2 separate regions of the Homo sapiens genome follow, and region 2 is linked to region 1. Evidence: fine-mapped expression QTL. A gene starts in region 1. The other region holds a variant in brackets. All regions are shown on one strand. Distances are from middle to middle.

Region 1 (8,335 bases):
CTATCTAGTCTTACCCCTTCTCCATTGTTATTATTTTTATCATTAATTAGAACAATGTGACATACATTGTGCTTGTCATCTGACTTAGTCCCTTTAAGTAATATCAAACAAAATAACGTTCTTAAAAAAATGACAGCTGTTTTCAATACTCTCAAAATACTGCTCTTCTGTAATGAGACTATATATCATTTCTGAGTTTGAGTTACTAAACTCCAAATAATAAGAGAAAAATTGGTTGTTTCAACACTTTTCCTACTAAGAGTATGCTAGTGCTTTCATAAATGTCAAACCATACCCTGCCATTATACTTAAGGTACTGTTATACTTAAGGTGCCGATATTAGCTTAAGTGGGGTACATAATGTAACAGAAATTGATATAAATCAGGAGAACAAGGTAACCTGTCTTATAACTCTGGAGTCATATATCTAAACTGACACAATTTCAGAAAGCTGTGTAACCCTGTTTGCCCTCTGTAGCGAATATATCATGATGCAGAGAAACTGAAGTAGAGAAGTTTCTCAGAGTCAATGGTTATCAGTGATGTCATGTACTAAATATGAGGTATTCATTCCTTCATCTGCCTGGGGTCAGGAGTAGGGACCTATTTATTTATTTGTTTATTTTTATAACTTAAGACAACAGAAGCACAAAAGTAAAAAAATAAAAAAGCAGAGCAGAAGTAAACAACCATGGCATCAGTCCACATAATTCAATATGTCAAGAGTTAGTAGGCAAACAACAAAGATAGTAACTTATAACTTACTAAGGCAGCTGCTTGGCCAATCCCCTGAGCAGCGGCCGTCAGGATGATGACTTTCCCATCAAGTCGACCCATAATGGAACCTGTGGTTTAATCTAAAGACATGTGTGTTTAATGGGTTATACTGTAGAACATGATCTTGAGCAGGCAGTAACATCTAGAATGAATAGTTCAGTGTGCTCTTTTAAGAATAATTTAGTGAGCTCCTTCAGGAACTTGAAGACAGCACCTCTGTGCAAGTAGTCCCATCATCTGAATTCTCCTAGAATGCTTACTCTGCATACCTAGCTTTGTATATCAAACACATTTACCATAACCCACTGAAGTAATGACTGGTGACAGACATTGGCCATTTTTTTTTTTTTTTTTTTTTTTTATGAGATGGAGTTTCACTCTTGTCACCCAGGCTGGAGTGTAATGGAGTGATCTCGGCTCACTGCAACCTCCGCCTTTTAGGTTCAAGCAATTCTCCTGCCGCAGCCTCCTGAGTAGCTGGGATTACAGGTGCCTGCCACCACGCCCAGCCAATTTCTGTATTTTTTGTAGAGACGGGCTTTCACCATGTTGGCCAGACTGGTCTCAAACTCCTGACCTCAGGCAATCCACCTGCCTCAGCCTTCCAAAGTGCTGAGATTACAGGCCTGAGCCACTGTGCCCAGCCCAGATATTGCACTTTAACCTACCTTATCCTTCCTTCAGTACCTGGAGAGGACAGCCTCTGGTGCTGAGTTTCCTCACTACCACCATCACTCTCTCCATGACCCCTGCACACATTGCTATGACATTATTTGTGTCCTTACTACTCAGGGCTGCTTCTTGATTTCTCTTCCATAAACTTTTGTTGAGGTTTGCACTATCAATTGCTTATGATTTTTTTTCTCTTGAAAAGATTTCATAGTTGGTCTCAGATATTCATCGAAAAAAAAAAGGATGGAAAAATCAAATCACATCCAATACTCCCATTTTACAGATGAGGAAACTGCTGAAACATGCCCAATGTCATAGAGCCAGTCAATGGGAAAGCCAGAACTAAACTTAGACTTCCAGACTCTTGCTATGTGAACAGTCCAGCCCACAATGCTGCCGATCCTCTTATAAAGTTTAAGCATGCAGTAGTAACACATTAACAGGCATAATCAGTAATTTCTAAATGATTGAGAAACACTGACACCGGGGCTCATGTGCATGAGATATTTCACCAGTGCTTGGATTATAGATCACAAAGTGAGAGAAAGAGCTAGTAGTGAGGCTGGGGGTGGAGAAGAGCCAAATGACCATCAAATGAGGCTGTCTTCAAGGACACAGGCTCCAAGTCTTGCTGGGCTCTGTCATTAATGTGTGCCTCTGACCTCATACGAACTCACAAAGTGGCTGCTTTGTCCAAGGCATCATATCCACATTTCAGGCAAAAAGAAAGGGAGGAGCAAAAGCCAAAAGGCTTTCAGAGAGGTCTCACCTTTCTATTTAAGAAGGAAACCTTCTCAGAAATTCCCACCTGCAGTTCATTCACCAGATCTATGCTACTTGGCCACTCCTAGCTGCAAAGAGGTTGGAAGTTGAGACTTTTGTTTCCAGCTTTGATAAAGTGAAGAATAGGAGAAAGTGAGTTGGATGGTGTTGATGAACCAACTTACAGTACATGCAAACTAGCCTACACAATCACTCTGTTCCATTATCTGCCTGATTTTGTACAGGTTGATAGCCTTGCCTAAAGGGCTTATATTACCTAGTCCTTTCTCTTTGAACTTATTTCAGTTCTCTCTTTAGCCAAACTTTTTTTTTTTTATACCCAATATGCTCTTCCATTTCAAACCTCCACACTTGGTCCAAGGTCCACATGGTGAAGGGCAAGTTACTCCTATAGGCAACAGCCACTGAAGGATTTATGGAAAGGGTGTGAAATGATCAGATTCGTATTTTGGAAGGACTGCTGTGGAGAACATACCTGGGCAGGAGCATGGGGTGCCATTAGGAGGCTGCTAGGGTTATCTAGTGGGGGCGCTGGTGAAATAGCAGGGCTGGAGAAAATAGCAGGGATGGAGAGATAGGTGGATTGGAGAAGTGTTTCAGAGATGAGATAGGTAGGACCTGATCACCAACGTGGCTAATTTCAAAGAAATGTTATTTGCCCAGTGTTTTGCAGCTATGAATTCAAACCTAGGCCTTCTTGTTGCAGGTCCAAGGGAAGATCTCATGGCATTGTCTCATGGTACTCAAAGCCCTGCGGGCCTCTCTAAATCCCCACTGTGGCACCAGGAGCCTGTGCCTCGCAGACCGCTGACCCCAGGAAGTAATGGACAATGAGGCGCAGCTGCTGCTGCCTCTCTGGGTTTGTGCTGAGGCCACCTTCTCGGGGCCGTTACAAGCCAGTGCCTGAGCATGCATGCTTACTAAGGCAGACTCATTTCTGGGAGACATAGACCTCCTCCCCAACGGATGACTGGCTAGAGAAGCTCCTTATTACCTTGCTGAAGTTCTCTTAGACTGCACAGCTGTCTGGGATGCTTCCACTCAACCTGGTTTCCTTCTTTTCCTCCCTCGCGGGTGGACTTGCATCGAGGTCTGATGGCTCTCACAGCCTTACCTAGTTCTCTCCTCATTCTCTCTCACAACAGCATTTCCCCTAATAAAATCCATGCATATTTAATTCTATCTTGGAGTCTGCTTCTTGGAGGAGCAGACTAACACAATTATGTAAGAACTGGCTCCAGGGATCAGCTTATAATCACTGACTTCCTCTGAGTTTGTCCACATTTTTTAGGCGATGGGGAAGCTTGGCTTTAACAGTGCCTGACCTACTTTGATGCAATGAATTTTTGCTTTTTTACTTCTTACACAAAAGATAAACATGGAATGTTTATCATTTCAACATGGAATGACAGTTTCTAAAGTATAACTTTAGAAAGATATACTTTATCCTCCTTGAATCCTAAGCATGGTGCACAAAAGCTATTTTACAACACTGTCATTAGTGATATTGGGTGTATGGCCCTGTAAAGCCTCCAGTCAAAGGTTTTGCTAGGAATCTTTGCCAACCGAAGAAGCACTTCCAGAACAAATGCCGAAGCACAGAGCAGCCTTTCTATGCACTCTGAAAACCTCCTCTTAGCTGGCCTTCCTGTCTTTCTGGGACCAGATTTTGGGGTCAAAGCCTTAACATTTGATAAACTGTAATCTCAAACTAAAACAGATTTCTTTGAGAAAATGAGAGCAAACACGGCCTGAAATGGTAAAACAAGGCACCTCTCAATATATCCAATGTGAAAACCATACATGTTGGCTTCCTTAGTCCAAAAGTTAGAATCAAAATGTTGATTTTTGATTAGCAGAGACACAAACAGCATATTCAGGAAGCCATTGTTTTCAAGAGCCAGGAAGAAAACTCTTCACTTAGGATACCGTAAGAATCCTTTTTTCTTGGGCTACTTTATAAAACATACATACCACAGAGTTTCAGGCTCTTTAAAAACCCATCTTTACACTGATCTAACTGCTCAGATTAATTTTGAAACAGGCAACGTGCAGAAAAAAACAACATCTAAAAATTAAACCTCCCCTCTTTCCGTTCTAAAGTTTCATTTCAAAAGTATTAGGAAATCTTACTTTAAGCAGCGAGCTGATGGCGTTCTCCAGAACTCGGTTTGAGCAACAAACTTGAGACAACCTTTGTCTGGAAGCAAGTCAAGCGCTTAATAATGCATGCTGGGATTTGTAGTTTCCCTGCTTTCAGAGTTTAGTGGCTCCATCCATACACTTTATAAATGTATGTGCTGCCATCTAGTGGAATTCAGGTAGAACTATGAATTCCAAGTGGAAGGTGAAAAGTGGAAAAGCACCTTAGAGCTTACTTAGGATGCGGAAATCATTTCCTTCACTTCAGTCTCTCCACTTCTCTGTTTTGTTTATGCCTACTATATGCGGTGCCAGGGTAGACGAGATTGGCTGAGCTGGAAACTGCGTGTGGAAGATAGCAGAGCAACAAAATAGAGGGAACCCAGGTCACTGAAAATTCTGGAGCCTTCCTGTCACTTGGCCTGGATTGTTTTAAGGGAGAGAAATAAAAAAAAAAATCCTTTTTGTTTGAGATACAGTTGTGATTTTTATTTTTTCATGCTCAGAATATTCTAACACTAATGCACATTTAGTGGCAGAATGCCAGGAGCCTTTTACTACACTGGGAATGGGGTTGGGGAGAACGTGAAACTTGGATGACAGGGTGGAGGCTTAAAAGGGAACATGTTAACAGCGAAAAACCCCAGTTTGGCTGAAGAGAACAGAGATATAAGGTCAAAAAGAAAGGACTAGATCTCATGAGCCCTCTAGGTTAGGATAGCAACATGTGCTTTATCTGTAGTGCCAGTGAGCAGAGTGATTGTGTAGGCTACTTGTACATGTACTGTATAAATTGGTTTCCTCAGCACCCATCCAACTCACTTTCCCCTTTTTTCACTTGTCAAAGCTGGAAAACAAAAGTCTCTACTTCATAGCCTTGTTTGCTGCTAGGGGTGGCCAAGCAGCATAGATGTTGCCAATGAAATGCAGGTGGGAATTTCTGAGGAGGGCCTCCTTCTTAAATAGAAAAGTAAGCCCTTCTGAAAGGCTTTTAGCTTTTGCTCCTCCCTTTCTTTTTGCCTGGAATGAAGATAGGATGCCGTGGGACAGAGCAGCCATTTAGTGAGTTCATCTGAGGCCAGAGGCACACATTAACGACAGGGACCAGCAAGAGAAGGAGCCTGCGGCCCTGATGACAGCCTCAAGGCAACAACTCCTCTGGACTTCTTATGTGAGGACAATAAACTTTAGTGTTTTTCACGTTTTTTGTTACATGGAGCTAAGTGATTTCTAACAGTCACAGGGGATAAGAACAAAGACTGTGGCGTCAGTAAGACTAGAGCAAGTCCCATATCTCTCTCTCACTAGCTAAGTGAGTAAATCACTTAAATCTCTGAACCTCTTATGTTTCTCATCTGTAAAATGAAGGTAAAATAGCACCTACCTCAGGGATGTGGTGAGGAGGAACGACTAAGCCTGTGAATCCATCAGCACAATGTTTGCCACACAGGTGCTTAATACATGTTAGTGATTCTTATGATGAAGACATTGTTGGAGAAATTTAATTATAATGGATGGTAAAAGTTGCGCTTTTTAATGTTCTTTTAAAAACTGGACTTAGTTTCTGCATGTGTCTATATGAGGTCTATGGTAAAATTGTCCCTCCTTGTTCATTGTTTCAGCAACTTCTAATGCTGGCTCTAACAATCTGTAATCACATCTAGCTTTGTTCCTGCTTTACTAATAATGCCCTTTGACTTTTGAGGCTTTTGGAACAGACTTTATGAGAGTTCTCTAATCAAAGCCAACTCCAATGCTTCTTGATGTAGCTTTCTTCAGCATCCCTCTGTAATCTTCAGCAACAATGCTTACTTGATAACAGCCTAAGTCACATGGTATTGCAAATACTTGCTTACCCATTAGTATTCTCAGCAGACTAAATTTCTTCAAGGGTGGGGACTATGTTTTACACCTTTACATTGTGATTAGCTCGTATTAAAAGAGTATTAGTTACTTGTTTTCTTATCTACAATATGAGTTCCACATTGGTAGTGCCTTTCAGTGCCTAAAACAGTAATTGGCAGATAGTAGATGCTCATTAAATATTTGCTGAGTGAATGGCAGTTTCTTAATAAGTTTCCTGAATATAATTCTGCCAGGCTCTCAAGACAATGTTTGTGATAATTAATTTTAGGTGTCAACTTGACTGGATTTACGGATCCCCAGAGAGCTGGTAAGCATTATTTCTGGGACATCTCTGAGTGTTTCTGGAAGAGATCGGCATTGGAATCAGTGAACTGGGTAAGGATCTACTTCACCCAATGTGGGCAGGCACTATCCAATTGGCTGAGGGCCCAGATAAAACAAAAAGGCAGAGAAAAGGTGAATTCTCTCTCTTCCGGAACTGGGACATCCATCTTCTCCTGCCCTTGGATACCTGAACTCCGACCAGATTCTCAGGCCTTCAGACTTGGACTGAGCCACGCTCCTAGTTTCCCTGGCTCTCCAGCTTGCAGACAGCCTATGGTGGGACTTCTCAGCCTCCCTAATTGTGTAAACCAATTCCCCTAATAAACATCCTCTCTCTCTCTCTCTGCATATATATATATATATATTTTTTTTTTTTTCCTCAAGCTTCAGTGGGGTTACATCCCAATAAGCCCATTGTAAATTGAAAACATTGTCAGTTGAAAATGTATTTAATATACCTAATTCACTGAACATAGAGCTTAGCCGAGCCTACTTAAATGTGCTCAGAACACTTGTTAGCCTACAGTTGGATAAAATCATTTAATACAAAGCCTGTTTTATAACAAGGTGTTGACTGACTCATGGGATTTATTGAACAGAGTACACTGAACAGTGTCAGTTGTTTACTCGTGATCCCGTGGCTGACTGAGAGCTGTGTCTTGCCGCCACTGCCCATGATCACAGTAGAGTATTGCTATCTTATGAAGAGATCAGAATTCAAAGTAAAGTTTTCACTGAATGCGTATCGCTCTCACACCATCCCTAAAGTTGAAAAATCTCAAGTTGAACCATGACAAGTTGGTGACCATCTGTGTATATTCTATTGGTTCTGTCTCTCTGGAAAATCCTAAGACAGATTTTGGTAACAGGAGAGGTTCTAGAGGAACAAAATTTTAAGGATGAGTTTCCTGAGTTGGTTTTGGGGTTCCTGGAATTGGCTCTTAGTCTGATTAGATTTGAAAATGCTAAAGGCTCTACTCTTTGAGATGGGGTCACACTCTTGAACAGGTTGGAGTGCAGTGGCACCATCATAGCTGACTGTAGCCTTGAATACCTGGGCTCAGGCCATCCTCCTGCCTCAGCCCTCCAAATTGTTTTTTTTTGGTAGAGATGAGGTCTCAGTATGTAGCCTAGGCTGGTCTCAAACTCCTGGTCTCAAGTGCTCCTCCTGCCTCAGTTTCCCAAAGTGTTGAGATTACAGGGATGAGTCACTGCGCCCAGCCTGGCTCTCCTTTTAATAGTACAGAGAGCACTGATTGTCCAAGAAATGAACTGTTCATAGAGGTATGCAAAATGTCTGCATTGGATACTCCTAATCAACCACTTCTTAGAGGTGAGGAACTTAAGTGACTCTATATATAATACTTTTTTTTTTTTTTCCGAGACAGAGTCTTGCTCTGTCGCCCAGGCTGGAGTGCAGTGGCATGATCTCGGCTCACTGCAACCTCTGCCTCCTGGGTTCAAGCGATTCTTCTGCCTCAGCCTCTCGAATAGCTGGGATTACAGGCACACACCACCATGCCTGGCTAATTTTTGTATTCTAGTAGAGACGGGGTTTCACCATGTTGGCCACGCTGGTCTCAAACTCTTGACCTTGTGATCCGCCTGCCTCAGCCTCCCTAAGTGCTGGGATTACAGGTGTGAGCCACTGTGCCCGGCCCTATAATACTTTCAAATATTTATGGAAAACTAAGAAATATACCAATGTTGGTTGGTTGCTTCTAATATTGTTGGGCAAAATTATTTAAAAAAAAAAAGGATGACTTCAGGG
Region 2 (8,335 bases), 120 kb after region 1:
TGTACATTTTAAAATTACTTAAACAGTATAATTAGATTGTTTGTAACTCAAAGAATAAATGCTTGAGGGGATGGATACCCCATTCTCCTTGATGTACTTATTTTACATTGCATGCCTGTATCAGAACATCTCACTTATCCCATAAATATATACACCTACTATGTAACTACAATAATTAAAAATGTAAAAAATCTTTAGATTGGGAAAACAAACTATAATGTCTACTGATGGATGTCCTACATACTGGAAATGTAGTGAAAATGGTGATGGTGATGTAGAATGAGGAACTGGTGCTTGTGAAGCAGGTTCACTGTGCACTGCTTACCACTTCAGAATCCTGGGCTGCACTTTTACTATGTACCTGAGTCTTGTGAGATAAAAAAACTCTCTCACACACAAATTGCATAGTTTTGTTACTTATAGATGGGCAGAAAGGGACAACAGAAGCCTACGAGTTATGATGAGCCAGTCCCCGGGGGCTCAGGAAATCTGCTCAGAGCAGATGGAGTCTCCTCTGAGAGTGCCTTATTGCTCCCAGGGTAAAAAACCCAGGGTGGGCTGCTTTCCAGGGTCCCTTGTACCACAGCTGAGGGACCCTGGAAACCAGCCCACCCTCAATTTTTCACCGTGGGAACAATAAGACACGCTGGCTGAAGCGATGAAGGATATACTGTTTCTAGGGGCAACAGGGACAGAGTCTGTGCTCTTCTGGCCACCTCCTCCTTATCTCAGGATGTTGCATGTCCAGCACATTCTAGTTAATTCTGCAGAACTACAAGTAAGAAATGGGGGAGAACTGGGTTGGTTCAACACCACCCATGGAACTGTCCTGCAGTAATGTCATGTATGGAAAATTATACGGGAATATGAAAAATCAGTAGAAAGAAAGAAAAAAAGATATTATTAGCACATAGAATAAACTCTAGACAGGTCAAAATCAAATAGAAAATTAGTAAATTGGAAGATAATATTTAGAAATGGGCTCAGAATGTAGCTGAGATAAACAAAAAGTGATTTAAAAATATGAAGGATTCATTAAAAGAAATGAAGGATAGCTGCAAAGACTGCAACATACATACTTATAGACACTCTATGAAACCCTACAAGTTCCAGGAGATGCAAATAAAGGAAATAAAGAAGCAATATTCAAAGAGATCATTTCTGAGGAATTTTCAAAGTTTGAGAAAGATGTGACTTCTTAGATTGAAAGTGTACCCCAAAAAGCATGTAGGACCGTTAAAGGTAACTCCATACCTAGTCACAAATTTGTGAAACTAGAGAACATGAAGAATAAAGAGAAAAGTCTTAAAATCTTCCAGAAAGAAAAAGAGAAAAGATTACCTAAAAGGCCTGACAATGAGAATGTGAGCAGACTTCTCACTACTAATAGTATGTGCCAGAAGATATTTGTTAATTATCTTCAAATTGCTGCGGTAAAATTACTGTCGACTAGAATTTTATATCTAGCTAACCTATCACAAGAGTGAGGGTAAAATATAGACGTTCACAGACATAGAAATAAGAGAACTTAACTAAAGCATATTCCGTAAAGAGAGGAGGAACGAAATTAAAAAAAATGATAAACACAGGAAGTGGCAAAATATGTTGATGAATTTTACTAACTTAAAAAGAAGATTGAGGGAGGCTGGCCAGGATTGCCAACTAGAAGCAGCTAGTGTGCTCTGCTCTCAGAAAGAGAAATAGAAGGGGCAAGTAAATACAGCACCTTCAATTGAAACATCCAGGTACACACATTGGGACTCATCAGGAAAACAGCTAAACCCATTGGGAACAGAGAGAAGCAAGGCAGGATTACTGCCCACCTGAGAGTGACAGGGAGCCAGGGCAGCCTCCCTCTTTCAGGGAAGTGGTGAGTGAGTGAGTGACCCCAGGGACCCATGCTTCTCCCATGGATCTTTGCAACCCTTGGGTCAAGAGAGCTCCTTGTGAACCTCTCCACCAGGGACTTCAGTCTGACACACAGAGCTACGTGAAGTCTTGGCAGAGCAGCTGCTCAGGTACATATGGAACCTGGGGAGACTTAGATACCTGGGCATCCAAGCAAAAGTGGTTGCAAGTCCAGCAAATCAGAAGGTTAGACCCCTATACATACCCATAAGAAAAGGGATGAATCCAGGGGCCTGAGAAGTGACAGTTTGCAGGCCCTGCTTCTACAGCACTTGGCAGGACAAGACCCACTGGCTTGGATCCTATTTCTCTTCACTGGCCAGAATCTATTGACTGAGGTCTGCAACCACCCCCACCAGTGTTTTCCAGGAGACATCAGTTCCAAACCTCCCTGGAATGGAGCTTCCAGAGGGAGGGGCAGGCCACAATCTTTGCTGTTTTGCAGCCTTAGCCATTGTTGCCTTCAGGCTTTGGAGAGCTCAAAGTGACTGGGGGCTGAAGCAGACCCCTAGTACAGCACAGCTGCCCTATGAAAAAGTGGCCAGGCTGCTTTTATGCAGTAGGTCCCTGATCCTGTTCTTCCTCACTGGGTGGGACCTCCTGACCAGGGTCTCCTGCCATCTCTGCCAGTGTGTTTGGGCTGGAAACCCATCCATACCTCCCTGGGATGGAGCTTCCAGAGAAAGGGGCAGGCTGACATCTTTGCTGCTTTGCAGACTTCACTGTTGATACCTTCAGGTAATAATAGAAAATCCAAGGTGACTAGGGACTGGAGCGGAACCCCAGCATACTGCAGCAGCCATATGGGAAAATGGCCAGACTGTTTTCCGTACATGTCCTGGTGCTTACTTCTCTTCACTGGGCAGAGCTGCTTGACCTGAGACACCACCACAGCCACCCTGCCATTGCCTGACCACTTCAATCAGAGGCAGCCCAGCATTTCTGTAAGGAGAAAATCCTAAAGTCAACCCACAGCCCCTCTGCCACTGCAGTTGCAGTGGTACTGCCCTAATAGCCTACAGGCTGGGGAAAGAATAAAGGCCTAGTCACTCACTCCCTGGTACCTCCAGCACACCACAGCCACCATATGGAGAGGAGTCCAGCCCCTCTGCCCTAGGAATCTTCCCCCTACACTCTTCACCAGTCAGGGCCTCCACCTCATAACTGCAGAAACATCCCACCCATGGTGGAGTATACCCACTAGTAGTGGCTTGGAGTTTTCTTGTGAAGAGGCTTCCAGAGGCATCCCACAGCCATTCTGCCACTGCCAAAGCAGCAGTTCTATCCCTGCTGCCCTTGGTCTGGGGAAGAGACAAAGAGCCTGAGGACTATACCTCAGGTTACAGAACACCACATCCACCATATGGGGAGACCAGTATCTCCTCCCAGTGAGCCCTTGACCCCCTACTCCCCAACAACAGAGTTCTAAGCTCATACCACTAGTGCTGCTGTCCCACCCCACTGGCTGAACACTCCCAGTAACAGCAGCTCTGCATTTCTTGGAGGTGGGGCCCTCAGAGGCAACCCAAAGTCCCCCTGCCATGGCCTCTGCAGTGGTACTACCCCTTCTACCCTTGGACTAACAAAGGAGCAAAAGCCCTAAGTACCTTATCCATACTTCAACAAGCAGCAGTTGACCCAAGGAGAGGAGGCCAGTTCATCTTGCATGAGTCCCACCCACCCCACTGCTCATCACTAAGCAGGGAACCCCCAGCTTGGGTCCACAGCACAGACCCCTAACTTGGGCTGATTACACTGAGAGATAGCTGACCTGTATCTCTCTAGAGCAAAGCCCCCAGGAGACAAGTAAAAGACCCTCATCACAACCACTGTGAAGGTCCTGTCCTCTGCTGCCTCCAAGTTGGGGAGGAAACATTAACCTTGAGATTACCCCAGAACTGTGTTGGGCAGCCTGGGAATGCCAAGCTGTGATCTACAGCCAGCACTGAAGTGGGAGAGGAGCTCACACTTTCAGAGCATAGAGAGGCAGCATGGCTACAGCTGTGAGGAAATATAGGAGAGCCACAAGACTGAGCAAGAGACTCTTACTGACCATTATGCCTAAGTGCCACCCACTGGATCACATCCCAAAACTTCAACACCTAAAGTATCTCACCAACTTTGTGAAACCAAAGACAAGAAGCTACAAATAATTACCCTGCACAAAGCCTTGGTCCTGTGAAAACATCCAGAAAAGAAGTCAAGAAGTCTATTGATTTTACTCAATCTTCACTGCAGTTAAAGGAACACCCACATGCAGAGATGAGAAGGAACCAACACAAGAACTCTGGTAACTCAAAAGGCCAGTGTCTTATGTCCTCCAAATGACTGCACTAGTTCTCAAAGAAGGGTTCTTAACCAACTCATTGGCTGAAATGGCAGA[C/A]ATAGATGGATAGGAATGAAGATCATTGAAATTCAGGAGAACAGCAAAAGCCAATCCAAGGAAACTAAGAATCACCATAAAATGATACCTGTGCTGACAGATGAAATAGCCAGTATAAGAAAGTATCTAACTGGTCTGATAGAGCTGAAAGAGACACTACAATAATTTCATAATGCAATCACAAGTATTAACAGCAGAATAGATGAAGCTGAGAACAGGATCCTGGAACTTGAAGACTAGCTCTCTGAAGTAAGATAGTGAGATGAAAATAAACAAGAATGAAGAGGAATGAACAAAAACTTTCAGAAATGTGGGATTATATAAAGAGGCCAAATCTACAAATCACTGGTATCCTTGACAGGGATGATGAGACAGCAAACAACTTGGAAAATATATTTCAGGATATCATCCATGTAAACTTCCCCAACCTCACTAAAGGGGCCAAAAATAAAATTCAGGAAACACAGAGAACCCCTGCAGGATTCTACACCAGAAGGTCATCCCCAAGACACATAATCATCAGATTTTTCAAAGTTGAAGTGAAAGAATGTTAAAGGCAGCTACAGAGAAAGGGCAGTTCACCTACAAAGGAAACCACATCAGACTAACAGTTGACCTCTCAGTGGAAACCTTACAAGACAGAAGAGATTGGGGGCCTATATTCAACATTCTTAAAGAAAAAAATGTTCAACCAAGAATGTCATATTCAGCCAAACTAAGCTTTCTCGGCGAAGGAGAAATAAGATCCTTTTCAGATGAGCAAGTGCTGAGGGAGTTCATTACCATAGAGTTTTGTATTGTTACTAGCCAATACAAAAACACACTTAAGTACACAGACCAGTGACACTATAAAGCAACCACACAAACAAACCAGCATAATAACCAGCTAACAACACAATTACAATATCAAATCTATACATATTAATACTAACCTTGAATGTAAATGGGCTAAATGCCCCATTTAAAAGGCAAAAAATAGCAATGTGGATAAAAAAGCGAGACCTGATAGTATGCTATCTTCAAGAGATCCATCTCACATGCAGTTACACCCATAGGCTCAAAATAAAGGGATGAAGGAAAATCTACTGAGCAAATGGAAGTCTGAAAAAAGCAGGGGCTGCAATCCTGATTTTAGACAAAACAGACTTTAAACCATTAAAGATAAACATTGACAAAGAAGGGCATTATATTAATATAATGGTAAAGAGTTAAGTTCAACAAGAATACCTAACTATCCTAAAAATATATCCTGTGTTCCCAACACAGGAGCACCAAGATTCATACAGCAAGTTCTTAGAGACCTCCAAAAAGACATAGTCTTGCACACAATAAAAGCGGAAGACTTCAGCACTCCACTGACAGTATTAGACCAATCATTGAGGCAGAAATTTAACGAAGATTTTCAAGAACTAAACTCAGCACTGGATCAATGGACCTGATAGACACCTACAGAACTCTCCACCCCAAAACAACAGAATATACCTTCTTATTGCTACATGGCACATACACTAAAATCAACTACATAAACAGACATAAAAGAATTCTCAGCAAATACAAATGGACTGAAATCATAACAACCACTCAGTTGGACTGCAGTACATTAAGATTAGAAATCCAGAGTAAGAAAATTACTCAAAACCACAAAATTACATGGAAATTGAATAACCTGCTCCTGAATGACTTTTGGGTTAATCATGAAATTAAAACAGAAATCAAAAAGTTATTTGAAACTAATAAGACCCACAATACAACATACCAGAATCTCTAGGACACAGCTAAGGTAATGTTAAGAGGGAAATTTATTGCACTAAATGCCCACAACAGAAAGTAAGAAAGATAGCAAATTAACAACCTAACATCACATTGAAAAGAACTAGCAAAGCAAGAGCAAACCAACTACAAAGCTAGCAGAAGGCAAGAAATAACCAAAATTGGAGCTGAAATAACCAATTGAAGGCAAGAAATAACCAAAATTGGAAACTGAGCAGAAAACCATTCAAAAGATCAACAAATCCAGGAGTTGGTTTTTTGGAAAAAAGAAAAAAGATAAATAGGCCACTATTTATCTTATTATTGTAATAAGACTAATAAAGAAGAAAAGAGAGAGGATCCAGATAAACACAATTGGAAATGACAAAGGGAATATTAACACTGACTCCACATAAATACAAATGACCATCAGAGACTGCTACAAACACGTTTATGCACACAAACTAGAAAACCCAGAGGAGAAGGATAAATTCCTGGGCACATACACTCTCTCAAGACTGAACTAGAAGAAATTAAAACCCTGAACAGACCAATGATGATATTCAAATTGAATCAGTAATAAATAGGCTACCAACCATAAAAAACCCAGGACCAGATGAATTCACAGCCAAATTCTACCAGATGTACAAAGAAGAGCTGGTACCGTTCCTACTGAAATTATTCCAAAAAATTGAGGGGAGGGACTCCTCAATTCATTCTATGAGGCCAGCATCATCCTGATACCAAAACCTGTCAAAGACACAACAAAAAATAAAACTTCAGACCAATATCCTTGACAAATATTGTTTGTCAAAAAAATACTGGCAAATCAAATGCAGAAGCACATCAAAAAGCTAATTCACCATGTCCAAGTAGGCTCTATCCCTGGGATGCAATGTTGGTTCAACATATGCAAATCACCAAACGTGGTTCATCACATAAACAGAACTAAAGACAAAAATCAAATGATTATCTCAATAGATGCAGAAAAGGCTTTCTATAAAATTCAATATCTCTTCATGTTAAAAACCCTCAATAAATTAGGCAGTGGAGGAACAGACCTCAACATAATAAAAGCCATTTATGACAAACCCACAGCCAAAATCATAGTGAATGAGCAAAAGCTGGAAGCATTCCCTTTGAAAACCTGCACTAGACAAGGATGCTCTCTTACTTTTCCTATTTAACATAGTATTGGAAGTCCTGGCCAGAACAATCAGCAAGAGAAAGAAATAAAGGACATCCATATAGGAAGAGAGGAAGTCAAATTACCATTGTTTGCAGACTACATGATTTTATACCTAGAAAACCCAATAGTCTTGGCCCAAAAGCTTATTAAGATAATAAACAACTTCAGCAAAGTTTCAGGATACAAAATCAATGTACCAAAATCACTAACAGTCCTATACATCAGCAGCAGCCAAGTGAAGAGCCAAGTCAGGAACACAATCCCATTCACAATAGCCACAAAAGGAATAAATAACCTGGGAATACAGCTATCCCGAAAGGTGAAAGATGTCTGCAATGAGAAGTACAAAACAATTCTGAAAGAAATCAGAGATGACACAAACAAATGAAAAAACATTCCATGTTCATAAATCAGAAGAATCAGTATAATTAAAATGACCATACCACCCAATTTACAGATTCAATGTTAATTGTACCAAACTTTTAAACACATTCTTCATAGAACTAGAAAAAATTATTTTAAAATTCATATGGAACCAAAAAGGAGCCCAAATAGCCAAGACAATCCTAAGCAAAAAGAGCAAAACTGAATGCTTCATGCTACCAGATTTCAAACTATACTACAGGGCTAGAGTAATCAAAACAGCATGGTACTGGTACAAAAACATACACATAGAGCTATAGAACAGAATAGAGAATCCAAAAATAAGGTCAAACACCTACAACCATCTGATCTTTGACAAAGTCAGCAGAAACAAGCAGTGTGGAAAGGAATCTCTGTTCAATAAATGGTGCTGGGATAACTGGCTAGCCACATGCAGAAGATTGAAACTGGACCCCTTCCTTACACCATATACAAAAATTAACTCAAGATGGATCAAAGGCCTAAATGTAAAACCCAGAAATATAGAAACCTTGGAAGACAACCTGGACAATACGATTCTGGACACAGGAACTGGCAAATATTTCATGATAAAGATGCCAAAAGCAATCTCAACATAAGGGAGGAGACCACCCCACATATTGTCTTATGCCCAATTTCTGCCTCCAAAGAAAGAAGTAAAAACTAAAAGGCAGAAATGACATCCACAGGCAGACAGCCCAGCG

What was found. PIP is the estimated chance that this variant, and not a neighbour inherited with it, causes the effect.
Region 2: its variant is fine-mapped to the expression of BDH2 in minor salivary gland (GTEx, PIP 0.94).

The regions. Positions count from the first base shown.
Region 1 is chr4:103,095,418-103,103,752 of GRCh38, forward strand. It overlaps BDH2 (3-hydroxybutyrate dehydrogenase 2), which reads right to left and starts at 4,417. Exons shown (of 10, transcript NM_020139.4): 1 at 4,366-4,417; 2 at 766-857. The coding sequence starts at 837.
Region 2 is chr4:103,215,400-103,223,734 of GRCh38, forward strand. No RefSeq gene overlaps it. Among named protein-coding and RNA genes, the nearest start is that of CENPE, 21 kb to the left of the region's middle. The variant C/A (reference allele first, on the strand shown) is at 4,292.